Linked DNA regions of Homo sapiens. The protein of the gene in region 1 purifies or fractionates together with the protein of each later gene. This does not show direct contact. Each region holds a gene or a part of one and is shown on either strand. Other genes may lie near its edges.

Region 1 (4,224 bases):
TGACAGTTTGGACATTTTCACTTTTTTTTTGGTTTTCATTTTAAAAAGTTTACCCTTTGACTTCAACAACCTAAAGGCAGAGGCAAAAGGGAGAAACTATCTTTATTCAGAAGGTGACTCCAACAGAAGAAGTCTTCTACGACTTATCTTCTGGCTTTCTTTCCTCCCATCCTGGCCGGGAGCTAGGACGCAGGACCAGTTACGTAGAGGCTATGGGGTGGGGGTAGGGTGGGGAGGCACTCCATGCATTTATAAGAACTAAAATGGCAGAAGTGATGAATGGCATTTCGGGACAGAAAATTGGAAAAAAAAAAAAAAAAAGGAAAAAAAGCCTAATATTAAAAATGTCTTTGGACTTGTGGCCAAAGGTGCCACCTTAAAGCATGACTATGTCACAGGTGTCTGGAATGATTCAGTCTGGACACTAATCTTGGCTTCTTCACTCGTTGCTAGTTATGTGACCTTGGGAATGTGGCTCAGTTTCCTCTTTGTAAATTAGGGAGATGAACACAGGATTATTGTGAGGATTGGCACTAATGATGTACGGAAATACTGTGTCTGATGCAGAAAGGGCACTCACCCGCTCATTAAAGGGTGGCTAATGGTAGCTGTGATTATTGCTTCCTTTATGATCCCTCTGGCCCTAGAGGGGATGAAATTGAGGTGTTCATGGAAGTGAATCCCAAGGGGGAGCAGGGGTAGGTAGCAGGCTGGTGATCTCGGCTCTCAAATCCTTTCATTTGCATTGAGTTAATCTCTATCAGGGACTGTTGTGTTAACAGGAGGCTTCGATGTTGGAGTTCCCAAAACGGCTGATAAAGGGAGGCAGAGGTCCTCAGCGGGAGGGCAGAGCTGAGCCACCACGTGGGTCCACGAAGCCCCCAGGTGGCTTTCCTGTAGGTATGTGGGGTCTCCTTCAAGCTCTAAGGGGAAAGGAAGAGGAAAGGCCTTCAGATGGGGAAGTGGACGGTGTGATGGAGAAGAGGTTCTGCACGGAACTTACTGGAAGGTGCGGGATGTTAAAGGGAAAACGTGTTTTCATGGAGGCCTGGGCGGGGGATTAGCTCTCCGTTAGAGAGGCTGGGTGGGAGGCCTCCAATGGGAGGATTGGTGGCGGTTTCATCGGGAGGGCTTGGGGTCTCCATGAGAGGATTAGGGTCTCTTCAGGGCGGCTGTGAGTGGAGGTTTCCAGCGGGGCGCAGTGGGGTGCAGATGTGTAAGGGCCTGCAACGGAACGCCAGAGTCCTCCGGGGCCCGCGCCCTGGGAGACGTGCGGGTGACCGCGCTCCCGCCCCGCCCCCACCGGCCACGGCCCCGCCCCCGCGAGCGGACTACACTTCCCAGCAGCCCCAGCGGGCAGCGGCGGCGGCAGCGCGGGCGGGAGGGGCGGTGGTGAGAGGCGGAGGGGGCGGCGCGCGCCGGGCACGCGCGCCGGCGACCATGGCGTTCGCCGGGCTGGAGCGAGTACATTAACCCCTGGAGGCGGCGGCGGCGGCGAGGGAGCGAGCCTCGAGCGGGCGGGCCCCAGCCTGAGGGAAGGGAGGAAGGGGCGGGGAGAGCGCCAGAGGGAGGCCGGTCGGCCGCGGGCGGGCGGGCAGCGCAGCGCCGAGCGGGGCCCGCGGGCCCATGAGGAGGCCTGGGGACCATGGGCTCCAGGATCAAGTGAGTGCGGCCGGGCCGGGCGGAGCCGGGCCGGGCGCGGGGCGGCGAGGCCGGGCCAGGGCTGCAGGCCGCGGGCCGCGCGGGGGACTTGTTGCCGAGACCAGAGGGGCGCCCCGCGTGACGCCGGCACGCGGGGAGGGGGACGGTTGCTATGGCGATCCAGGGAGGCGCGGGGGCGGGGTGCGCGCGGGGTGGCAGGGCGCCGGGGGTCAGGTGTCCCCTCCTCACCTGGGGGTCGGAACAGCTGAGATTACAGGGCGGCCCCCTCCCCGGGTTTACGGAGAGCCCCTGAAAATGGTCCTTCAACTGTGGGGAAGGGGAGTGGGAAAGCCCCGGAAGCACCTCCCCATGTTTGGGCATGTTTGGGGCGCCCCTGAAAGTTGGCAGGTCCGGAGAGGTTGCAGCCTGGCCGCTTGAGGCCTGCGGCCCCCACAGAAGTCGCGTGAGGTTCTTAGAGGGAGGGGCCGCTCATGGTGTGGCCACCTAAGGTGTGGATGGCCGGGGAGGAAGGCCTGTCTCTCTATTTCCCCCCTCTTATCTGTGAAAATCTCCACGCAGCAAGGTCCAAAGGCTGTGAAGGAGGATACCTCTGTGTTGTAACCGAGCACCTGCTCTTGATAATCGTTGGAAAGGCTTTGTAACTCAATCTGGCGAATTCCCTCACTCATTCATTCACCTGGAGTTCCCGGTGGAGGGTTAGCTTTCCGGGGAAATTGTTGATACATGTAACTTCAGAATCCACTGAAACATTGTTGCTGTCCTTGTAGACTTAGAAGTTGACTTTGGAAAGTGCAACTCTTAAGCGGTCCAATTTGGGTGTGTGGCTTTCGACTCTATCTCCCCTCCCAGCCAGGTCCTCTTGTGGCCTCTCCCTTCCTCTGCCCCAGAACTGGAGATGTTTTATCTCTAATTACTAACAAATGTTCACTTTTTCCTCTGTGACTAATAGAATTGTTTAAGGGCATTAAAAAGCAAAGTTGACAGCATAGGCTTTTCTGTAAAACAACTTTCCTAGGACACTTTAAACCCTCTTACAAGAAAGTTTGTGGAATGTGTTTATTTCAGCATTTTGAGAATTGTACTAGGGAAGTTTGAAAGGAGAAGGGCCTTAAGGGTGAAACTAATAATTATTCAAACATTGCATCTCATGTCCAGGTGATGCCCGTGCAGTGTGACCCTTGCCCAGCCTTGCAGTCCCCCGTGTGGTTAGGCTTCTCATTTACAAAATATGTATGAGATGCGCTGCAGCAGCCTTGAGACATCTGCTGAATGAAACTAGAAAAGTTTGCTTATGGTAATGAAAATGGAAGAGTCGCATGAACACTCTGTTAAATCTTTATTTTTGTGGAAATGAGAAAAAAGTTAGAAGCATGCTCCAAACAAGAGCTTGAGAGGCTTGGGAGGTAAAAAGATGTCGTTTGTGAAACATTGGGATTAAAGAGGCACTCAAGTTTAGCTCCTGCTTCCAAGTAAGAGTTGTAAACTTGGATTTCAATAGCACTTAGAAACACTTTCCAGAAGCCAACTTAGAGTTGCAGAGTATGCGTGAGGACACTTACCCTTCTTGTTACAGAAAAGTTCAGAAACTTGCCTGACATGAAGCAGTGAGTGTCAGAACCAGTATTAAAATCCAGCAAGTAAAAGTTCAGATGGCTAGCCATCAAATCTCTCTGTTGCTCTCCAAGGTAGCAGGTTGACAAATACATTTCTCAAATGTGTTTTGTGGAACCCATCGCTAATTCTGAGCACTTGGGTTAGGGAATTTACTAAGGCATGGAATTGTATTAAGCGTGAAATGAGTATGAAGAATAGCCTTATTGATCTTGAAACTAGACTACTCTGTGATAAAAACTTAGGCTTGGGAAATATGTTAGCTTGTGGTGAAACCGAAAGAGAATATGAAGAGAGAAGTTATGAAAAGTAGTTGTGATTTATAGTGACTGTTGATTATGCAACTTCTGCCTGTAGCTAGGAATGGGGATGGACAGGAAATTACCCACTTAAGTGCTCCTCTAGTTGTTGGAGAAGACAGAGCTTTGGTTACTACTGGCTGGCTTTCCCTCCTGGCAGGGCATTCAAGATGTTCTCCTGGCTGTGGTGAAATCTAAGTGTGCAGGTTCCATTGAATAGGACAGTCTTGGAGGTAGGGACAAGGGGGAGGGGTTCCTTTTGTTTTCTCTTGCTTATCTCTGATGCAGCAAGTCAGTTGACTAGGTGGAATCAGGTCTAGGTTCAAATTCCAGCTCTTTTTAATGCTAATTATGAAACTTTACACAGACTGCCTTTTCAACCTCAGTTTCCCTGAAGGTAAAATGGGGAGGACTGTGTCCAGGTTGTAGGGTTATTATGAGCATTGAACACAGTATCAATGTAAATGTCAGGTCCATGTTAAAAACTCAGTAATTGTTAGGTTTTTTTCTTTTTTTTCACCTTCTGTATCAAAAGACTAAGAACATTACTGTATATTAGAAATGTCAGAGAAAGGTATGTTTAAGGTAATGGAGAAGAAAATTTTAATGACCAAGGAATTAGGCTGTTAACATGCAGAGTAGGGCTTAACAT
Region 2 (3,500 bases), on another chromosome or scaffold:
GTCTTTAAATCTGATTATCCAGCAGAGGAGCCTCACATTTACAGCTCAGATTAAACACATATTTCTTCTGATCATTGTTGCTTGAACCAAACCAGCAACGCCTTCTCAGTGTAACTGGAGAACTTTCTTATGCTTTTAAACATTTTCAGGGTGCTTTATCTAAGAAGATATTTTTAAAAAGTGTTTATTTTCTCTTTTAACAAACTCACTCCATGTTGCTATGTTCTTTAAAACTGCTCCCTCTTCTAATTTAATATATTTTTAAAGTTTTTGTTGAAATGTAAACTGCTCTCTGTATCTTTGTTTTGCTTTTAGTTATTAGCTTAGTATAGAAACTTATAAATAATCAGACAATTGCATATCTTCAGTTAGCACAGAATTCTGACAGAGGCTAGCTTTGCCAGCTCAGTTACATGCTGTGTGTCTCACTGGGGAGTGTTAGGGCATTCTCACATTGACATGGACCCAACGTGGTGTCCACTGGTAACTGTTCAATATAAGACCTGCTTACCGATTTCTAGTAATTTTGTTTTTGAATTTTTCTTTCAGGCTTACTGCACGATTAGGGTATGTAGCCTCAGGTCATTTTCACTCACATAGCAGGTTTGTATTTGAGATCACTTTGATCTCTATCTTCTAATTTGATCTTCAGAAAAACCTAATGAGGTTTTGTTTTATAGATAAATAAACTACCACCCAGAAATCTGAGGGACTTGTCCAAAGTCACATGCTTGGAGAGGCCAGGTCTTGAGCCCGAATTTCCAGTTCTCTCTTCCCACTATCATGTGCAGGTCATCACTCCATGAAAACTCCCAAAACACTGCTGTTTCTATAGTACCCAAATATGCCTTTCTCAGGATTTAAGAAAATATCAAAAATACATATAAGTTTTTGATATTTACTTAAATCCTGAGGAAGGCATAGCTGAGACAAGTCATGATCTGCCAGGTGAATAGAAATGGGGTTGGTTAAACTTGCACTATTCATACAACTTCTAGTGAGGCATAATGTGTATGTATACACATTAGAGAATATTTTAAGAACATCTGCAAAACAAGTGTTCAGTAACATGTATAACTGCTCTTTTTAACTTTTGAAGGCCTGCTTCAGTTATTTTTATGTGACTACTTATTCTTTGGCCTTGGATGCTTGCACTGTGAATTTAAAAATAATACAAGGACTTAGATAAAAGTCAATGGGCTGTGTTAGATTAGGCCTCGGTCATTTTACCTACAATTATGAAGGTCTTTCAGCATTTTTACCTATTCCTAGTTACAAAAACTTATTAACACAGAAAAAAAGCCATTACAAAATCTTTAATTTCAAAAGGCTTTGACCTAACTTTATGAAATATGTATTTAGAATTCGTCATTTTACAATTTGTTGTCTCTTGGTTCATGTTTTTCTTTTTTGTGTGTGTGATCTACATCTACTTAATAGTCTGATTATTTTCATTAAAAGATTTCCTGCTAAGGAGTCACTTTTAATAAACATTTACTTATATTTATTTTAGAGCCCATTTTTGAAGCTGTAGTTTGTATGTTGAACACTTCTAAAACCTCTTACTTATGAACAAGTATGAATTGACCTTATAGTATGTGTGGATCACTGTGATTGGCACTATATAGATGAGAGAAAGGAAGGGTGATTATTTGCTTGCTTTTGGAACTTTACTGGGCTTTACAAAATCTTTAGCATCAACTCTCATCAAATTCGTAAATTATATGACTATTTTAAGATGCTGTATTCTGATTCATTCTTAGTGTTTAAATTATCTCAGGTAGCAAATGGAGGTACTTCCAATTTTGAAATTTTCTGCAGATTTAAGTATCTCTAATTCCCAAAGAATATTTTCTATTTTAAATTCACTTTCACACTTCTCTAAGGTCTTTTCAAGTAGATCAGCATTTCTATCACCGACCTTAAGATGAGGAAATGGAGGAATAATGTTTTGTTTTGTTTTTCCAGGATGTGGATCTGTTGCTGACAGTGCCAGATTAGCAATCAGAAATCTTTCTTTTTCCCTAATTATTAATCACACTTCCATTGTTTGAAAAGTCAGGGCTAGCTCTTGCCCCTAAGCAGAAAAGGCAAAAGAGAGGATAAGTAGGAAAAAAGAAATGGGCATATTTTAGTATAAATTTAAATATATTTCTCTCTTCCTTAGGAGAGAGTTATGTATGTGGCTCCATAGAGCCCTTCAAGAAACTGGAGTACACCAAGAATGTGAACCCCAACTGGTCGGTGAACGTCAAGACCACCTCGGCTTCTCGGGCAGTGTCTTCACTGGCCACTGCCAAAGGAAGCCCTTCAGAGGTGCGAGAGAATAAGGATTTCATTCGGCCCAAGCTGGTCACCATCATCAGAAGTGGCGTGAAGCCACGGAAAGCTGTCAGGATTCTGCTGAACAAGAAAACGGCTCATTCCTTTGAGCAGGTCCTCACCGATATCACCGATGCCATCAAGCTGGACTCGGGAGTGGTGAAACGCCTGTACACGTTGGATGGGAAACAGGTAAGAGACATATTGTGATGTGACTTTGACTTTAAGGCAAGAACCAGGGAGTCGGAGGGTGTACGTGGCTAAAGCATACATTTTGCTCAAGTTGTTAAAGGGCCTGGGTCACTTGATCAACAAATATGTACTTGCTGGCCCTAGAACAGTCAGAAGTTTGAGTTGAGCAGGATTATTCATAGGAATAAAGTAAGAAAAAAATGCATATCTTTGAAGATTAAATAATTACTCAGTGATTTCTACTTGTTCATTTATTATTTGCTTAACATAATGATTCTTTTCTGTCATCTGTTTTCAGTTTTCTCATAGATCTTATAGCCTGAAGAATGAATGACTGAGGTGTGAAAGTAAACTCTGACCAGTAGGGAAAATTCTAACTTATTTCTTTGACCTAAATATTTTATGATTTTAAGTCTTTGTAGTGTTCGCTAGTGAGATTTACTTACATTTTATAGATTTTAAAATATGTATCTAAGAAATGACATATTTCCATCTGGATAGCTTTAAAGGCATATTTCTAGAATAGTACGCATCTTGTATTTTTCAGTGTTAAAATGAAAGGGAGGTTTTTCAGCTACAGAATGAACATCAGTTGACTTGGATGGGTGGTCATTTTAATGTGAGTTGGTCAGATGAACCCAAAGGAAGCATCACCTTTTATTGTCTTGGGTGGACTATTTTTGTACAGGTTTGACAGAACCTTGATGGTGAGTTGAATTAAAAAACATTGATTAGGGCCGGGCACGGTGGCTCACGCCTGTAATCCCAGCACTTTGGGAGGCCGAGGCAGGCGGATCACGAGGTCAGGAGATCGAGACCATCCTGGCTAACAGGGTGAAACCCCGTCTCTACTCAAAATAAAAAAAAAAAATTACCTGGGTGTGGTGGTGGGCGCCTGTAGTCCCAGCTACTCAGGGGGCTGAGGCAGGAGAATGGCGTGAACCCGGGAGGCGGAGCTTGCAGTGAGCCGAGATCGCACCACTGCA
Region 3 (3,500 bases), on another chromosome or scaffold:
ACTCTGCATTTTAATACTCCATATTGTCTCTTCTCTTTTTGTTGACCTTCACATTGGAAGATGACACTGTTGATAGTGATTGCTATCTGGGAGAACCTTTTTGGGTAAAAAGATTACTACTGTCGCTTTTATGATTGCCCTTCTGTAGGATCTTTGACTTGTGCCATTTTCAAATTTTGACTTTGTTTGCAGTTCTCCATTAGCTCCTGCTGATTAAATTTCCCATACTTTCTGTTTTATTCTATTTCTTATAGATTATAGTGGGACCAGTCTCATTAGGTTGAATCTACAGCCTATGTTGGTGTTAACCCAGGTCTCTTAGAGGCAAGTTAAATGTCCATTTTCCTTCAGTTTAAATTACCATGGCATATTGTTTGGTCATTGTTGTAACAGTCTGAACTCAAGCTTTTTTTCACTGCTTGATTCCCACTAGGGTTTTGTGGTGATAAAGTCCTATGGTTTTTGCATGGGAGAGTATTTAAGAATAAAAGGAAAAATATATAAAATGAAAAAGAAATAGAAGTTTAAAATAAGATAAAAAAGTCCTAGAGTTTCCATTCATTTTTAATACTTTGAAAAATTACATCTCTTTAAAACTAGAGATTTTTATTTCATGTATAAACTTGCTTATAGTTAGCATTGCAGTGTTTCTTGACCAAATATTGTTTTTACATTTTATTCATGCTCTCAGATGAATGAGAAATATACTAAATTAATTATGTAGGAATGTAAAGTGATACCTTTATTGAATTGCCTATAGTTTTGTGTGAGGTTGAAAGCAGAAAGAGGTTTGAAAAACAAAGAATGTTCTCTTAATTGACCAAACTTCATTTTATAAAGGTATTTCAAAGTATTACATACTTCCCTACTTTAAGTAAATAAGGAACACAATTTTATATTTTCTTGTTAACTATGGGGTTTCATTAAGCTTAATTATTATTATTATTTGAGATGGAATCTCACTGTGTTGCTCAGGCTACAGTGCAGCGGCCTGATCTTGGCTCACTACAGCCTGTGATAGAGCAAGACCCTGTCTCCTGGGGGTTTGGGGTTGCAGTGAGCCGTGATTGCACCGCTGCGCTCCAGCCTAGGTGATAGAGCAAGACTTTCTCCAAAAAAGACAGGGTCTTGCTCTGTCACCTAGGCTGGAGGGCAGCGGTGCAATCACCACTGACTGTAACCTCAATCTCCCAGGCTCAAGCCATCCTCCCACCTCAGCCTCCTAAGTAACTGGGATTATAGGTCCATGCCACCACATCTGGCCAATATTTTTTGTAGAGATGGGGTCTCACTATGTTGCCTAGGCTGGTCTTAAACCTCTGGTCTCAAGTGATACTCCCGCTTCAGCTTCCCAAAGTGTTGAGATTATAGGCATGAGCCACTGTGCCCCACCAAGAATGCAATTTGAGAAAGTCACATCCACTTCTGATTTAATTTTGCAAAAAAAGTAGCCATGTTATAATGTCCAAAGGTCATCCAACTTTACCCACTGAACTGTGTAATTTTTTAAGGGCAGGAGGAAAGGGAAGAAGAAATGGATAATAAACTCTTCTTTGGCTGGGTGCAGTAGTTTACACCTATAATCCCGGCACTTTGGGAGGCTGAGGTAGGAGGATCACTTGAGCCATGAGACCAGCCGGGGCAACAGAGAGAGACCCCCATCTCTAAAAAAGATTTTTAAAAAATTAGCTGAGTATGGTGGTGCACGCCTGTAGTCACAGCTACTCAGGAGGCTGAGCCCAGGAGGTCAAGGCTACAGTGAGCTCTGATTGTACCACTACACTCCAGCTGAGGGAACAAAGCAAGATCCCATTTTGAAAATAACTGGCCGGGTGCAGTGGCTCATGCCTGTAATCCCAGCACTCTGGGAGGCTGAGGTGGGTGGATCACTTGAAGTCAGGAATTTGAGACCAGCCTGGCCAACATGGCAAAACCCTGTGTCTACTAAAAATACAAAAATTAGCTGGGCATGGTGGTGCACACTTGTAATCCTAGCTTCTCGGGAGGCTGAGGCAGGAGACTTGCTTGAACCTGGGAGGCGGAGGTTGCCTTGAGCCCAGATCGTGCCACTGCACTCCAGCCTGGGCAACAGAACGAGACTCTGTCTCCAAAAAAAGAAAAAAAACTCTATCTGTCTCTATCTAGTTGCTTTCCTGTAGTTAATGAAATTGTCAACTTTAATTGTTAATTATTGTTCTTTGACTTGTTAGTAGCAGTAAAGCATCATTTGATTTTAGCCAAGAAACTATTTGAAGATACTATACTTCAATTCACTCTTGTCACTTGGAATATCACCAACTTATGGATTTTTAAGATATTGCCCCAACAGAGCATTAAAGGCAGGTTGTGATTTTGCACACTTGGAGCTTTGCTCCCTGGACATTTTGGCAATGATCATATTTCTGAGGGCTCAGTGATTATTTGCATAGGATGCATATTGCTGTGATGCGGCTTTTGTTTTTCTGTTAGATATATATTTTTTGAGATAAGGTCTCACTCTGTCACCCAGGCTGGAGTGCAGTGGTACAGTTGCAGCTCACTGCAGCTTTGACCTCCCTGGGCTCAGGTGATCCTCCTACCTCAGCTTCCCGAGTAGCTGGGACTACAGGCATGTGCCACCATGCCTGGCTAATTTTTGTAGAGGTGGGGTTTTGCCATGTTGCCCAGGCTGGTCTTGAATTCGTGGGCTCAATCGATCACCTTCCTTGGCCTTCCAAAGTGTTAGGATTACAGGCATGACCCACTGTGCCTGGCAGTAGGTTTTAAAAGTTAATACCAAGTCCCTATAATGGGGTTTTGAATGAAAACCCCAAATAATGACTTCCCTGAAACCCCATGGTGGTCTTCATTTGACAGCTTCATAAGAATCACTTAGGACTTTTGTTAAAAAATATAGTTTTCAGTCCCACTGTAGAACTACTGAGACTTTCTAGATGTTAGGGAACCTAGTTTATAAATACACCAGGTGATCTACTCTTTTAACCAGGTTTGGAAGCCATTTTCTGCAAAGTATATTTATGATGAAAGATTGTACTTTTAAAGTTTCCTAAGAGGTTGCTGGGTGATTTATATTAATATTTTTATTATTTACAGCGTTAAAAGGATCTGAACAAAGTCTGCTCAAATCTCCTGCTGTGAACCAGCAGAATTTTTGAACAGGTAAGTGTGGAAGGGAAGCACAAAGCCTGAGGGCTTTTGCAAATAGGTAATTTCTGCTTTTAGGTTTTAGTTATTTTTGCCCTATTATTTCTCCTGAGGTTTTGGGTAGTGAGAAGAAACTTCTTCCCTGGTGCCTGTCAGATCCTTTATGAACAGTAAGAGTAACATACCCTTTCTGCATTGACCCTGGTGTGAATTTGTGTCTTAAACTGTCATAATAATTTTTTGTTGGCAAGAAACAAGGAGGAATGCTTTGGAGGCAGGAGTACTGTAAAGAACCAAAGAGCAGTTGACTTCATGAGGGACATGAACCAGAAACTGGGAAGCTTTCAGGAGCCATA
Region 4 (3,500 bases), on another chromosome or scaffold:
AAAAAATCACCCATAATCTTACTACTTAGAGATAACCTTTGTGAATTAGTGTATTTCCTTTCAATGAGTTTTCTTTGAATCTACATGTATATGTACATAATTGAGATAAGACTGTACAAATAATTTGTATTTTTTTCATTTTTTATTGATTACTATACTGTGATCATTTTCTTACATCATTAAAAATTACTCAGAAGCACAACACAAGCTGGGTGCGGTGGTTCACTTCAGCCCAGGAGTTCAAGACTAGCCTGAGCAATACTGGGAGACCCTGTCTCTAGAAAAAAACACATTTTAAAAAAATTAGCTGGGCACGTGGCATATGCCTGTGGTCCCAGCTATGCAGGAGGCTGAGGTGGGAGGATCGCTTGAGCCTAGGAGGCAGAGGCTGCCGTGGGCCGACATCACACCACTGCACTCCAGCCTGGGCAACAGAGTGAGACCCTGTCTCCCCACCCCTCAAAAAGCATGACATATGCAAGTCATACAGTATTCCACCACATGAACAGAATTCAGAACTCTCCCCTCAACTGTGCACACTTTGTAAAAATTGTCACTGGAGCCGGACACGGTGGCTCATGCCTGGAATCCCAGCACTTTGGGAGGCCGAGGAGGGCGGATCACAAGGTCAGGAGTTTGAGACCAGACTGACCAACATGGTGAAACCTCGTCTCTACTAAAAATACAGAAATTATCTGGGCATGGTGGTGTACGCTTGTAATCCCAGCTAGTGTCAGGAGGCTGAGGCAGGAGAATTGCTTGAACCCGGGAGGCAGAGGTTGCAGTGAGCCGAGATCGTGCCACTGCACTCCAGCCCGGGAGACAGAGTGAGACTCTGTCTCAAAAAAAAAAAAAAAAAAAATTGTCACTGGAAGAAACAGTGCCCGGATGTATGTCCTCACATAGAATCTTTCTTAGGATCTGTGATTGATTATTAGAGTGATGATCAGAAGGGGGAAAATATGAGGTTAAAGTACACAACGTTTTTAAGCTTTTTGCTCATGAAAAAGAGTGAATTCACTTCCACTTCTGCCAACTCACAATGTGTGGGAGTCTGAGGCCACTCAACAGCATGGAACCAGCGCCATCAAAGGAATTTTTGCTCAATTGGAGAAGCAAAGATGGCCTGTAATTTATAACTGTGTCCCCCGCTCCCACCAACAATTCACATGTTTAAGTCCTGACACCCAGTACTTTAGAATGTGACTGTATTTGGAGACAGAGCCTTTATGGTGGTGTATTAGCTTAAATGAGGTCACAATAGGGTTAGTATCTATATGAGAAGAGGAAAAGGCTGGGCTGGGAGGCTGATACCTGTAATCTCAACACCTTGGGAGGCCGAGGTGAGAGGACTGCTTAAAGGCAGGAGTTCAAAACCCATGGGCAATATGGTAAGAACGTAAGTCTACAAAATTTTTTAAAAACTGCCATTCATGGGGGTGGCATGCCTGTGGTCCCAATTACTTGGGAGGCTAGGGTGGGGGGATTGCTTGAGCCCAGGAGTTTGAGGTTACAGTGGGCTATGATTGTGCCACTGCACTCCAGCCTGGACGACAGAGCAAGACTTTGTCCCAAAAAGAAGGGGGTGGGGGGAAAGGAGAGAGCTACCAGGAGCGAGTGCAGAGGAAAGGCCCTGTGAGAACATAGGGAGAGGGCGGCCGTCTACCAGCCGTGAGAGAGGCCTCGCCAGGAACCATTCCTGCTGGCCCTTTGATCTTGTACTTCCAGCCTCCAGAACTGTGAAAAAATAAATGTCTGTTGTTGAAGCACCCCTGTCTGTGGTATTTTGTTATGGCAGCCCTAGCACACTACACACAACTCTTATTTAATGTGCATTACATCACATGTATGACTCATGAGCAAAAGGGAGTATCTGTGTGATTTTGGTGTAGTGTCTATATCTCACTCATTCACCAACTGCACCCATCAAAAAAGTCAGATCAAGGCTGGGCGTGGTGGGTCATGCCTGTACTCCCAGCACTTTGGGAGGCCGAGGCGGGTGGATCACGAGGTCAGGAGCTCGAGACCAGACTGACCAACATGGTGAAGCCCCGTCTCTACTAAAAATACAAAAATTAGCTGGGCGTGGTGGTGCGCACCTGTAATCCCAGCTTCCTGGGAGGCTGAGGCAGGAGAATTGCTTGAACCTGGGAGGCGGAGGTTGCAGTGAGCTGAGATCGCACCACTGCACTCCAGCCTGGGTGACAGAGCGAGACTCTGTCTCAAAAAAACAAAAAACAAAAAAGTCAGATCAAAAACATGCAGAAACCTGCTGCACTCTACCCATGCTGCTGTAGAACGTGCTGCTGTGCTGGACTGACCCATCCTGCCTTGCGGGTGGAGACAGAAGAGCCTCCAGCTGGGTGTCCCACCTCTGGGTGCTGTCTCCACTTCTGGGCACACACTTGCCTTCCCTATCTGGGGAGCCTCCCTGCCGGCAGCTTTCTGCCTGCCTCTGGTGGGAACCTGCCTCAGCAGAAGCCCCAGGGGTCCACAGGCAGCCCCTAAGTGGGCGTGGCTTCTCAGACGTAGCTCCTGGGTGGCACAGGCAGGGCCTCTCTGCACAACCACTTTATCCTTCTCTTTCACTCCTTCAAGCATTGTGACACATGCTTCAATAGGAATGTAAATAATACTTTTCCCCAGTAGAAATTAATCAGAATGGTTCGAAAGAAGTCCTTTGACAAACTCCTGCCACATCAGACCTCAAAGTTTAGGGTCCAGTATTTCTGTGTTAAGTGAATAAAAACACCAAAGGTTTGGAAATGGGGAAACCCTACAAGCCATCCCGTTAATACACCGCCTTCTCTCCAGAAGATGATGGAAATGAAAAAAGAGGGATAGCACCAACCCTGCTTGATAAGGGGCAATCACAAAGTTGCAATTTTCAGAAACTCTAGCAAGTACTGTACAAGGAGGACCGGCTGTCTCTCCGTAAGGCCCTCTGCTCTTCAATCAGAGTTTCCCATTAGGAACTGTTTCCACTTGCAGATCGAGAACAACAGCCTTCTGCCAGAAAGATGCCCACGGAAGCAGAACAAAGCAGAGAGTGCCTCCTGTGGCCCCGTCCTCTGCCAGGCGTGCCGACCACCTACCCAGATCAGGAGCTGCGCCAGGACCACATTCCCCTTGCGGCAGGCCAGATGCAGCGCCGTGCGGCCGTCTCCCTCCCCGCAGGTCTCGTTCACCTCGTCCCGGGAGCCGTGTGCCAGCAGCAGGATGGCCGTCCGCAGGTCCTCGTCGGCGGTGGCCCGCAGCAGGTGCTGGCCCAGGGACAGCTCCGTGCAGGGCAGCGGGGCCAGGAAGAGCTTCTGCTCGTACTTGGCACGGATCCACCGTTCCTTCTCTTCCCTGCAAAGAGCCACCAGACAGGTGCAGTCACGATCAGGCCCGAGAACACAGGCTGCCAGCCCCTGCCCAGTGTGGTCGGGAGAAGCCGAGAGGGAAGTGAAATAACAGAAAGCAAAGGTCTTCACTCGGCACAAAGCCCCCTGGGGGAA
Region 5 (3,928 bases), on another chromosome or scaffold:
TCTCATGTGAGCAGAGGGACAATTTTGAGTTCTGCCTGTCCTTCATCCATAAGGAATTTCCTTGTAGGCAAATTGTGGGGGAGGTATGTAGCTTTTTTTTTCTTTTCTTTTCTTCTTTTTTTTTAGACGGCATCTTGCTCTGATGACCAGGCTAGAGTGCAGTGGTGCAATTTTGATTCACTGCAACCTCCACCTCCCGTGTTCAAGCAATTTTCCTGCCTCAGCCTCCCAAATAGCTGGGATTACCAGTGCCCACCCACCATGCCTGGCCAATTTTTTTTCTTTTTCATATTTTTAGTAGAGATGGAGTTTCACCATGTTGGCCAGCCTGGTTTCGAACTCCTGACCTCAAGTGATCCGTCGCCTCAGCCTCCCAAAGTGCTAGGATTACAGGAGTGAGCCACCGCGCCCAGCTAGCTTTTTTAACCTTGTAGCTATCTTACTTAGGAATAGAATGGGAGGCAGGTTTGTCCTACACAGTTACCAGTTTGACTTCTTCCTTTTGGCTCAGTGATTTGGAGGTCTCAAGATTTATTTTCCTTTCACAATCACGACATGGTTGTTTTACATCATTACGTTTGGGGATGGTTTGTCAAACAGCAGTAGTAATTGGAATTTGGAGGTGAGAGAATTGAGTGGGGAAAGAGTGGCATGGGGAGACCAAGGAAGAAGCTTGGGGTGGGGTGGGTAGTGGGGACGGTCATTGAAACGAATGACACTACGGCTTGCACCAGGTTGAAGCAGTACCTGGCAAGGAGAGAGAGGATACGTGGAGGCTGCGATTTGGAGACAGACCCAAGAGAACTTCCTGGATGCCATCACCCAGAGTCCCATCCAGGGAGGGTGGGTGAGGTGGAAGACAAGGGATCGGGCCTGCGCCACGATCGTCACGTCCCATCGAAGCTGGAGCGGATCCGGGCACCCGGAGCCCCCATTCCAACCCCTCCCGGCCCCAGGCAACTACATCTCCCAGCATCGCCCGCTCGGGCCGCGGGAAAGGGGAAAAAAAAAAAAAGTTTGGGCCAAGCATTCCCGGAATGTGCTTCCTGCTGGCGCGGGGCGGGGGGCGGGCGGGGAGGCCCGGGCGGGGCGGGGAGGGCGCGGGGCGGCGCGGCCGGAGCCCGGGGCGCGCACTCGGCTCGGCCCGGCCCGGGCCGCAGCATGGCCGAGCCGCTACTCAGGAAAACCTTCTCCCGCCTGCGGGGCCGGGAGAAACTTCCCCGGAAAAAGTCGGACGCCAAGGAGCGCGGTAAGCGGAGATCGGTGGGGAACAGGGGGCGCCGAGCCCCACCCGGCCTGGGAGCGGGGTCCCAGGGCCCCGAGGACAGACGGTGGGGGGGATCAGGGGGAGCCCCCCGCACCCCGCTGCAGACTGGGGTGCCTCCAGCCAGGGGAGGGTAGGGGTCCTGGAAGGAAGGGGCTGGGAGGGAGGGGGGCGCGGACCGTTATGTGCTGCTGGCCGGGGATGCCAGCGCTGCGGGCTCCTTGGGAGGCCCGGGAGGGGGCCTCGCCCACGACAGGAAATGGGGCCGCGACTGAGGGCCTGGAGGGTGGAGGGGAGGAGGGGCTGGGAGGCCGGGACACTGGGGCCCAGTCGGGCTGGGCAAGGGGCATCGGGAGCCCTGGAGGCGCAGGATGGGAGATGGGAGGCGTACTCCTGCAAAGGAAAGAGAGGGGCGGCCCGTCAATCAGAGTAGCTGCCCCCTCCGCCTCCCACCTACTAACAGTGACGGCAACTGCGCCTGCCTTAGCCCCAGGAAACTGTCCCTTTTATACAGATGGGGAAACTGAGGCACGGAGCAATTGGGTCATGTGCCCAGGGCCATCGACTTAAACAGCTCTTTGGACTATGCTACAAACAGAGACCCTAGAGGGTGGACATCAGAGGTGGCCAGAGGAGGAGTTCAGCAGGGTAGCAAGTAAAAACCTTAGAGAAACAGCTGCGTGGGATAGGGGGACCCAGGAAGGAAGGAGTTAAAGGAGGAAGGCCAGACCATTCCATGGACGTACCCCTTCCCCCCAGGCCTTCCCAAAGATTCCCAATGTTCCCAGGGAAGGGAGAAGGGACAGAGATGCCCAAACACAAACACACACAGGAAACAGCCCAGGACATGAGACAGGAGAGGAGGGAGGGAAGGGGAAGTCCCAAAGCATTGAGCGTGGGGGGTCTGGCCTGGGCTGAGGGACAAGGGCCCATCCCAGGATGGCGACAGAGTTTGGAAGACAGGAGGGAGGGTAAAAGGGGCAGGGGACTGGGAGTGACTGTGCTGCAGGGAATAGAAAACCCAGCTCCTCACTCCTGAGCACGTAGTGCCTGCTGTGGGCTGTATACTTTTCCAAAAGGCTCCTGGAAGCCTCCCTGGACATGGAAATCACATCCCCCCATTTCACAGGAGGATACTGAGCCTCAGAGAGGGAAGCGACTTGCCCAAGGCCACGCAGGTGCAAAGCTCCATGCCACGGTTATTGAGAGGGTAGAGGAAGTGGAGACTGGAACGCAGTACCTACGGGCCCCAGGAAGCCTGACTTAGAACCCTGAGGCTGCAGGGATGGAGTCCCCTTTTGGGATGCCAGGGACTGAGTAGGGGGTGCTCTAAGCTGATAACTGAGATCGCTAGCCTGTGGCTGCCTATTCCAAACAAAACAGCAGGATCCAAGGAACCATGACTTATCAGGGGCCGGCCAGGGCCGTACACAGCATCCCACCCACTGATCAATTGCACAGGGCTGCTCTGCAGGCAGTGAGGGGCTGGGTGGGTCTCACTCCCCTTGCTCTCTGCCAGGCCACCCAGCCCAGCGCCCAGAGCCCAGCCCTCCAGAGCCAGAGCCCCAGGCTCCCGAAGGGTCCCAGGCCGGAGCAGAGGGGCCCTCCAGCCCCGAGGCATCAAGGAGCCCTGCACGGGGAGCCTACCTGCAAAGCCTGGAGCCCAGTAGCCGCCGATGGGTGCTGGGTGGGGCCAAGCCAGCTGAGGACACCTCTTTAGGGCCTGGGGTACCTGGCACTGGGGAGCCCGCCGGCGAGATCTGGTACAACCCCATCCCTGAGGAAGACCCCAGACCTCCAGCACCTGAGCCCCCGGGGCCACAGCCTGGCTCAGCTGAGTCAGAGGGCCTGGCCCCCCAAGGTAAGAACAAGCTTCCCATCCCCTTCCCCAAGGTGAGCACCAGCTCCACATCCCTTCCCTTCAGGGTAGCACCAGCCTCACACTCCCTCCTCCCAGAGGAGCACCAACCTCACACTCCTTCCCTTCAGGGGAGCACCAGCCTCACATCCCCACCCCGTCAGATGCTCCCAGAGGAGCATCAGCCTCACACCCTCCTCCCCGCCAGGGGAACACCAGCCTCACACTCCTTCCCTTCAGGGGAGCACCAGCCTCACCCCCCTCCCCTAAGCCCAGGTTCCTGGACCCTGAAGTCTGCTCTCCACACAGGTGCAGCCCCCGCCAGCCCCCCAACCAAAGCCTCCCGCACCAAGTCCCCGGGCCCCGCCAGGCGCCTCTCCATAAAGATGAAGAAGCTGCCGGAACTGCGGCGCCGCCTGAGCCTGCGAGGCCCCCGGGCTGGCAGGGAGCGCGAGAGGGCTGCCCCTGCGGGCTCCGTCATCAGCCGCTACCACCTGGACAGCAGCGTGGGGGGCCCCGGGCCGGCAGCAGGGCCTGGGGGCACCCGGAGCCCGAGGGCCGGTTACCTCAGCGACGGGGACTCACCGGAGCGCCCAGCTGGGCCCCCATCACCCACCTCCTTCCGGCCCTACGAGGTGGGTCCCGCAGCCCGGGCACCCCCGGCCGCACTCTGGGGCCGCCTCAGCCTGCACCTGTACGGTCTCGGGGGGCTGCGGCCAGCGCCGGGGGCCACCCCCAGGGACCTCTGCTGCCTACTGCAAGTGGATGGGGAGGCCAGGGCCCGAACAGGGCCACTGCGAGGGGGG
Region 6 (3,500 bases), on another chromosome or scaffold:
AGGAGGCAGGGACCAGATCATTAAGGACCTTAAACGGTTTGCTAAGGAGTTTCCACTTTATCCATTCAGTGATGAGGAGCCAGTGAAAGATTCTGAAGAAAAAAGTGACATGATCAAATGACTATCTAGAAAGATCACTCTGGAAGCAACGCAATGGAAGAAATGTAGGCAAAGTTGACAAAAACACTAAAGGTGTTTCCTCAGCAATTGGATTTTTAAAAAAACACACCAACAAGATCATTTCTATAATGCAACTACTCAGTTTAAATGAGTGACATGAGACTCTCTTAAGTTCTGATAAACAAAGAAAGGAGTTTAAGATGCACTATAAACCATGTAGTGAATAAAGACAGAAATTGATATTACGGGGAAGAAAAGGCATAATAGAACACTAACACAATTATTTTGACTCTTAAATTTAGTAATGCTTACCTTTAACTATTCAAGAGCAAACAAGAGACCGAACATAACAAGATACGTCATGTGTGGCCCACAACAAAAAAACAACTTATATGACATATCCACAAACACAGCTTTCACATAATTTATAAAGATTTTTTAAAATAAACTGACCTAATAAATTTGTTTCCAGAAAAAATTATGGTATTATAGTTACTTTGACCCTTCTAGAAAAAAAAAGGTCCCAGAAAGTTTTTTCACTAATTGCGTAACCTGCTTTAGCCTTCTAAAACTCAGACCCAAAGTTCCTGTTCTCCATCTAATATTACCTTGAATCTTAAATACGCAAAGTAAAATGTCCTCTGAAACAGCGGTCCCCAACCTTTTTGGCAACAGGGACGTTTTTCCAGACAATTTTTCCAGAGGGTAGGGGGGCAGAGATGGTTTGGGGATGAAACTGTTCCACCTCAGATCATCAGGCATTAGATTCTCATAAGGACGGACAACCCGGATCCCTCTCATGAGCAGTTCACAATAGGGTTCAAGCTCCTATGAGAATCTAATGAAGCTGCTGATCTGACAGGAGGAGGTGCTCACACAGTAATGCTGGCTGGCCAGCCACTCACCTCCTGCTGTGCACCCTGGTTCCAAACAGGCCATGATGGTCCAGGGGTTAGAGACCCCTGCTCTAAAAGAAAGAAAACTGGCTGGGCACAGTTGGCTCACACCTGTAATCCCAGCACTTTGGGAGGCCAAGGCAGGTGGATCACTTGAGTCCAGGAGTTTGAGATGAGCCTGGACAACAGAGTGAAACACTGTCTCTACAAAAAGTACAAAAATTAGCTGGATATGGTGGCACGTGCCTATAGTCTCAGCTACTCAGCAGGCTGAGGTGAGAGGATCGCCTGAGCCCAGGAGACGTAGGCTGCAATAAGCTAAGATCACACCACTGCACCCTACCCTGGGAGACATAGTGAGATCCTGTCTTGAAAAGAGAAAAGAAAGGGAAAGCGAAGGGCAGCAGGAGACTGCTGAGTGGGAAAACACAGCTCTAGTCTTTAAGCTCTTCTTTAACCTATTTCTCTCCGTGGCCTTTTCAAGAAACTCATCAGGGATATACACTCTGCATCACCATACACACATCTCCTTAACTCATTTTTTTTTTCATTTTAAACGGTCTTCATCTAATGCAAGTTACTACAAAAGACGCTATTCAAAGAAACCAAGCGGTATTCTCACGGTATTACAACGAAGTCTAAACTATTTATTTGTATAGTATATTTACAGAGTGCCTTTCCCTCAAAATAATCACAGCATTTGATGACTACAGGCACATTAAGCAAATATAACAATGCTGAGTCTCAAGTCATTCAGAAAGAAAAAAAAAGTCCAAATAATTGAACTAGCTTCCAAACTATTTTATAATATTTGGTGCCTTGATTAGACTAGTACTAGAAGAGTAAACAGCCCTCTGCAACAGCTTGTTCTAGCTCCCTGAATTAAAATCTGCATATTGTACTGTCAGCAAAAATATCCCAGCTAACATTGGTGATTCTGGGTAAGTTCAATCCAACAATATTCAGCTAGTGTGCCCAATCAGAGTGTCTCAGATCTCATTTTAATTCTACTGTAAAAGGAAGAAATATGACAAGGAGAGGATTTTCATGCATTTCTTTTATGCACACTTGTTCTACCATATATTCAATCAGTACCAACTACCCTAATAGTCCCCTTTGAAATGACTGGATTAGTATACTCCTTTCTAGGGTCTCCTTCCCTCTCCATTCAAAATAATTCATACTCACTTAAGAAATAAAGAGCAAAGGCAGTTATGGGGAAAAGAAGAAAAAACAGAGCTAGCGTGGGACAGTCAAGAATTCATGATGGAAGAGGGAAATAATCTATTAATGTTTAACAATGTTAGTAAAATCCTAATTTGCAAACCAAATTAAGTTTTACAAGTGAAGTATGCTAAAATGAACTACCAACCAGTAACCAATACAAATACAAAGCATAGTCTGAGTGTATGACAATTTATTAAATATATTAAATTACGTAAGCATATATGCTGAATAAGTTTTAGCCATAAGCAGTAGATTATATTGAATTCCCATATCAACAAATGTATATAAAAAGGGAAGTGTTTGGTTACATGAGATATGCAATTCGCAGCACAATAAGGAAAGGTTTCTGTTGAAAAAGAATGGCAGAAGCAATTTGGCTAAGAGAAGAAAATAACTATTATAATTGTGAAAGATGATGTTCCATTTCTTAAACTGGGTAAAAGGCATGTAAGTGTTGGCTGCATTGTGAAGTCTTTATATTTTACACATTTTTATAAATACTTTGTCATATGTGGTCAATATCTTATAAAACAATGTTTAAGTGTGAGAAAAATCTGAACAAACATTTGTTGACATTAGAGGTAAAATGTACATAGGCATCTAATCCATTTGTGCTAATTATGGTAGTTTTTAATATAAATGAAAAAGAGGTCATAAAAATATGAGTAGGAAGAAAAATATTGTAATTTATCCTTAATTTCCCTACAGAAAATAAGCAGTAAAGGTTTACTGGTGCTCTTAAAAAGGCTGTGTGTGTGTGTATGAATGTGTATTTATATACACACACACACACACACACTATATTAAACTACTTGAAATTAACTTTTTACCTCTGAAGTTCCCTTCAAACCAACCACCATCACAAATATTTCCTTAACCACATAAAAAGTACTAATACTCCTCTACGCATAATCCCAGAAATAAGTTAAAAAACAAATTCCTAAAGAGAAATGTTCACACTGCAAATAACTGTATCTTTTGTATATATGCAGACTTAACATCTATGTGAGTTGTCCAGGTTTATCCACATCTATTGTACTTGCTTTATGATGGGCACATGCATTTTAATTATGCCTTGCCAATACTACCTTGAGTGAGAGGGCAATATAGCATATTGATGAGGAGCACAGGTTCTGGAGCTAGCATTCCTAAATGGAAACTTAGCTCTTCTACTTCTCAGCTATATAGTATTGGGCAAGTTATTTAACCTCTCTGTGTTTCAGATTCTCATCTGTAAAACAGAAATAACAACACATA
Region 7 (4,247 bases), on another chromosome or scaffold:
TGTTGGACCTTACGTTTCAGCAACCTCACCATGGCCACATAACCCACAACCTTTTAAAACAGTTTCTTTCATAGCAATCCCTGTTTCTGCCAGACAGATCTAAAATGGGAGTTTCTCACTGTGTTTATCTGATCTGCACACTTTATATCCAGCTGTTTTGGCACTTTTACGTTTTCTTCACCTTTGGTTTTGGTTTGCAAATTCTTACACCTTCTCTCCAAGCGGAGGGCACACTGTGGTCAAAATCACTTATTTTATTAGGAAAAAGAGGTAACTGTTCCAAAGTGTAGTGTCCTTTGTTGAAGGAGGAGGGATGTAAGCATAGATTTGTTCTTGTTTCTGGCTATTCTCAGCTCAAGCCATGTTTAATTCATTCTTTGTAAAAGCCTTCAATTGTGCCACAGAAAACCTGGTAAGAGAATTGTCAGTTTCATTGGCCATAAGTATGTAATGTGGGTGATGTCTTGCCATTGAGGTTTGGAAGCTCTTAAGTGCCGATTATGGATTACAGAGGGCTGATAAAATTACTTATATTGGGAATTGAGAGAAGCCCCAAAAAATCAAATGTGCTTTTGATGGATAGAGTGTATCTTATTAGCATTATGGGAGCTCCTTAGAGGGCTGTCTTCACTGAAAGATTTAATGCCCAAAACATTTGGACAGATTATGCAGCCTTCTACTACCAGGTTATCTTGAATGAAGAAGAAATAGTAAAAAATAATAATAATAGAGCATTACCAATAAGCTAAAAGTTCAGAGTTGCTGATAGATGTTAAATGTTAAGTTATCCTGTGAGCCTACTCCTGTCCAACCTTTTTTCTCAGTATTTCTTTAGAGAATGCTGCAATCTGTATAAGTTACTCTGAAGGATTTTTTAAGAAGAGAAGCCACCAACAGGTGATAATTTTTATGGAGATGTTTCTTAATTGGCTTTCCCTCAGTTCAAGTAGGTAAATAACTTTGTTTGCTGGGAGGAGGTACATGGCTGAAGAGAGGCAAATAGATTAAGATAGCAATGTCTTGCACTTCCTGTTTCCCTCAAAACAACACCACATTGTGGGGCGCAGGATAGATCAGGGTTGAGTGGAATTTGGAATTCAGGTGAAGTGCTTGTAAAGTGCATGTCTAGCTGACAACAGACTTGACCATTAATGAGGACAGTGTTGGTAGGAGTCAGAAAAGAGCTTCATATTCCCCTTTTATATTACTGAAGCAATAAGCAATCTGAGCTGAAGCAGCAAAAAGAGTCACATTTCCATCAGGTCATCATATTCCCTGAGTCTCTGCAGCAAAAGCCATGTCAGAGGGGAGATTATAACTAGGTAACTATAACAAGCACTTGAGCACTTACCATGTTCCAAGCACTATCACCAAGGTACTGTTGGGGTTTATGGCAGTCTAACGGTAAGAAAAATGTGGTAAAATGAGGTAATCATGCTGCTATAGCTTTTTGCTTTTTTTCATATAGTATCAAGTTGGTCAGAATTAGCTTTCTCTGACTGGTCTGCTTCCGTGTTTCTCTGTGATGGTGTTAAGATTATGAAAGAAAAAGAAGATTACCTAAGACTGCTACAAGTGTTAACTATATGCCCTTAAGAATGAGCTTGACTTTGGAAGTAAAGCTTTTCAGATCTTAGTCTACCCGGGGCCTTTGTTGATGGGTCTGTGGTTCTGTAGACCCCTGGCTTTCACTGTGTTCTCAGAGGTACACCAGATTGAGAGCAGAGTTCTTCTTTGGAAGTCCCAGAGCAAAATAACTGCCATCAAGTGAGTTTGCATTCGTATTTGTTTCCCCTTCCATAGAGGGTTAGTTTTAGTTACCTCTAGCTTGGAGTTCCTGAGAAGGCTGGTTATAGGACTGAGCGTGGGAAAGGAACCCTCTTCAGGATTACCTCAGTCCCATCAGTCTACCCCATTGTGACATTGAGCCCAACACACACGCTTGACACCAGACTAGACTTGTCACAGGGCCAAACCCAACAGCCACATGCCATAGCTTCACTGCATTTTCAGCTACACCTTTGGAGGCCACCTTCTCCTATCAACTGTGGAAAGCCAGAAGGGCTCCCTTCTCCATTCTCCTTCCCTTTTTCAAGTCTAATAGTGAAATCTCCTGCTTACCCCAGCAGTAAATAGTTGCCTTCCTACCCCTTACCTGGGGGCCGATAATTTGAGATACTTTGTTTTTTCAATGCGTCAGTTGAAGGATTTAGTTTCTTAAAAGCAAGAAATGTTGGAGTGTTGAATTTTTAAATAGAATCTCTTTTCATGTTTGAATGATTGTTATTAGTTCTAGAAGCATTCTCTTTGTCATGACCCGATTATGTATACTCTTGGGTTTAGGAAGGACAAAAGTGATGAAATTTGCATGAGATAGAATAAATATCTTAGGAGGAGTGAAAGAACCTGAGGAAGAGACACGACCCTAAGGGAATGAATGCATAAGCAGTCTTCTCAGTAGCCCAGAGTTTCCAGGAAACAGGAATATTTATATCCCTTGCCCACTCTTAAAATACATAGATACATAAAAAGGCAGTCTCTGTAGACAACACATGCACACACCCACACAAAACATAATTCCTGGGGCTTCCTTTTTCTGAATGTTAATCCATTTTATCGAGCAGTGATTCCCAAACTTTGAGATTTTCAGATTTTATGCTCTCGTCTGTTAGATTTTATGACATTCTATCATCCTAAAAAATGTACTATATGTGTTATATGTATATATAAGTTAAAGCAACTTGAAATTGACTTGGTTTGGCATTGTCTCAAGAACCCTAGATATCATTATTGATACCATGGGGAATCATAGAAATAAAGTTGAATATCATTGATCTGAGAGTAGGATCCAGAAATAAGTAGTTTCAGTTCCTGATCAGTTAAGCCTCAAGTGTTTGAGTAACCAACACAGCAAGACTTGGGAAATGCAGTGAGCACCCGAGGAAAGGAAAGTGGTAGTCTTTGCCTGCATTTCAGCATGCATTTTCCTTTCCTACTCAGTTGCTATCTTCCACTTAAATACCCTCATTTGACCCTAGGAAGTTTTTTGTTTTTTTTTTTAGTTTGAGACTTAAAACCAGATTTATTTGTTGTTGTAGAGAGATTTCCACAGAAGTTGTGTTTTAGGGACCTCCATCATCTTTGTGGGGGTACAGATATTTATGTGTAAATATCATTTTATGTGATTTCCAAATTTTCGAGGGAAACATTTCAATTCCCAGTTCAACAAAAGGTTAAATACTAATTGACTCAATGACCACCTTCAGGAAAGTTAAATAGTAAATTAGGTTAAATTTTGACTGGTGCTTAGACATTTCCTAGTTATATTAACTTAAGCAGACAGCAGCACATTAACCTGAGTTACACCTGTGAGGAAATGACCTTCTAAATTTGATTTTGTTTTTCATCTCCAGGGCCTTAATAAGAGTGTGTTAACACACGACTATTTTACAATGATAGCTCTAAATAATTTATTTTTTATTTCAAGAAAGAGAAATACACCTTAGAAAAACAAAACCCAAGATTTTATTTTATTTTTAAAGCCATATTTTTGTGCTAGTAGCATTTAGATTATTCCGTATGTGAGATCCGTATCAGCATTTCATTACCTGGGTTTGTTCTAAAGAAGATTTATTTTTGTTCTGTGAATAATTTTTGACAGTTCTTGTACATGTACAGATATAGATACGTTTGAGGTCTTTTATTGATATTCCTACAAAGAATACAAATAAACTTTAACTTTAAACATTTCAGACTAAAGTTGCTACTATATTTGACATATTGCTGTCTTCTAGCATGCACCTGGGTGACTAGGACACTTGAAGAGAAACAAGAAAGGAAATGTATGCCGGAATATTCTTCTAAAAATATATTTTAACATTAAGAACAGTCTGTCCTAGAATTTCCCAACTTCCATGTAATAAGATTTCAATTTAGGAAAAATAACTAGCATTAGCATGTATTGTGATAAAACTGTTACTTTCGAATTCTGCAGAATTTGAAATCTCTTTAATAACTTGTGACAGGTAAAGAAAGTTTCATCTGGTTTATTAGGAAATGTAGCCCCACTTAGCTTCCTAGACCACTACCATCCTCTTGTAATTTTCCAGTTAGATTAATGGGGTTTGTTTTCAGGATTTTTGATGTTTGGTTCAGGTTTTTTATTTTAATTTCTTAATAGAAGTTCATTTGTCATTCCCAACATGATTGTTCCCAAATACACCCATCTTCTCCTGCATCCCTGTTTC

What was found.
Region 2: the proteins of DENND1A (region 1) and DCLK1 purify together in Homo sapiens (affinity purification with mass spectrometry, with the first as the bait; one large-scale study listed by BioGRID). This does not show direct contact.
Region 3: the proteins of DENND1A (region 1) and GIGYF2 purify together in Homo sapiens (affinity purification with mass spectrometry, with the first as the bait; one large-scale study listed by BioGRID). This does not show direct contact.
Region 4: the proteins of DENND1A (region 1) and AGAP1 purify together in Homo sapiens (affinity purification with mass spectrometry, with the first as the bait; one large-scale study listed by BioGRID). This does not show direct contact.
Region 5: the proteins of DENND1A (region 1) and SYDE1 purify together in Homo sapiens (affinity purification with mass spectrometry, with the first as the bait; one large-scale study listed by BioGRID). This does not show direct contact.
Region 6: the proteins of DENND1A (region 1) and TANC2 purify together in Homo sapiens (affinity purification with mass spectrometry, with the first as the bait; one large-scale study listed by BioGRID). This does not show direct contact.
Region 7: the proteins of DENND1A (region 1) and RASAL2 purify together in Homo sapiens (affinity purification with mass spectrometry, with the first as the bait; one large-scale study listed by BioGRID). This does not show direct contact.

What each region holds. Positions count from the first base shown.
Region 1 is NC_000009.12:123,927,327-123,931,550, reverse strand, and holds the start of DENND1A (DENN domain-containing protein 1A), read left to right. Parts: upstream 1-1,424; 5' UTR 1,425-1,626; coding exon of another isoform or gene 1,627-1,645; coding exon 1,646-1,662; intron 1,663-1,885; exon of another isoform or gene 1,886-2,894; coding exon of another isoform or gene 2,895-2,956; intron 2,957-4,224. UniProt on the Homo sapiens protein: Guanine nucleotide exchange factor (GEF) regulating clathrin-mediated endocytosis through RAB35 activation. Promotes the exchange of GDP to GTP, converting inactive GDP-bound RAB35 into its active GTP-bound form.
Region 2 is NC_000013.11:36,110,883-36,114,382, reverse strand, and holds part of DCLK1 (serine/threonine-protein kinase DCLK1), read left to right. Parts: intron 1-2,167; coding exon 2,168-2,514; intron 2,515-3,500.
Region 3 is NC_000002.12:232,700,331-232,703,830, forward strand, and holds part of GIGYF2 (GRB10-interacting GYF protein 2), read left to right. Parts: intron 1-254; exon of another isoform or gene 255-324; intron 325-3,093; 5' UTR 3,094-3,159; intron 3,160-3,500. UniProt on the Homo sapiens protein: Key component of the 4EHP-GYF2 complex, a multiprotein complex that acts as a repressor of translation initiation. In the 4EHP-GYF2 complex, acts as a factor that bridges EIF4E2 to ZFP36/TTP, linking translation repression with mRNA decay.
Region 4 is NC_000002.12:236,120,043-236,123,542, reverse strand, and holds part of AGAP1 (arf-GAP with GTPase, ANK repeat and PH domain-containing protein 1), read right to left. Parts: intron 3,352-3,500; coding exon 3,096-3,351; intron 1-3,095. UniProt on the Homo sapiens protein: GTPase-activating protein for ARF1 and, to a lesser extent, ARF5. Directly and specifically regulates the adapter protein 3 (AP-3)-dependent trafficking of proteins in the endosomal-lysosomal system.
Region 5 is NC_000019.10:15,106,273-15,110,200, forward strand, and holds the start of SYDE1 (rho GTPase-activating protein SYDE1), read left to right. Parts: upstream 1-1,128; 5' UTR 1,129-1,161; coding exon 1,162-1,249; intron 1,250-2,783; coding exon 2,784-3,125; coding exon of another isoform or gene 3,126-3,431; coding exon 3,432-3,928. UniProt on the Homo sapiens protein: GTPase activator for the Rho-type GTPases. As a GCM1 downstream effector, it is involved in placental development and positively regulates trophoblast cells migration.
Region 6 is NC_000017.11:62,969,235-62,972,734, reverse strand, and holds part of TANC2 (protein TANC2), read right to left. Parts: intron 1-3,500. UniProt on the Homo sapiens protein: Scaffolding protein in the dendritic spines which acts as immobile postsynaptic posts able to recruit KIF1A-driven dense core vesicles to dendritic spines.
Region 7 is NC_000001.11:178,475,104-178,479,350, forward strand, and holds the end of RASAL2 (ras GTPase-activating protein nGAP), read left to right. Parts: 3' UTR 1-3,747; downstream 3,748-4,247. UniProt on the Homo sapiens protein: Inhibitory regulator of the Ras-cyclic AMP pathway.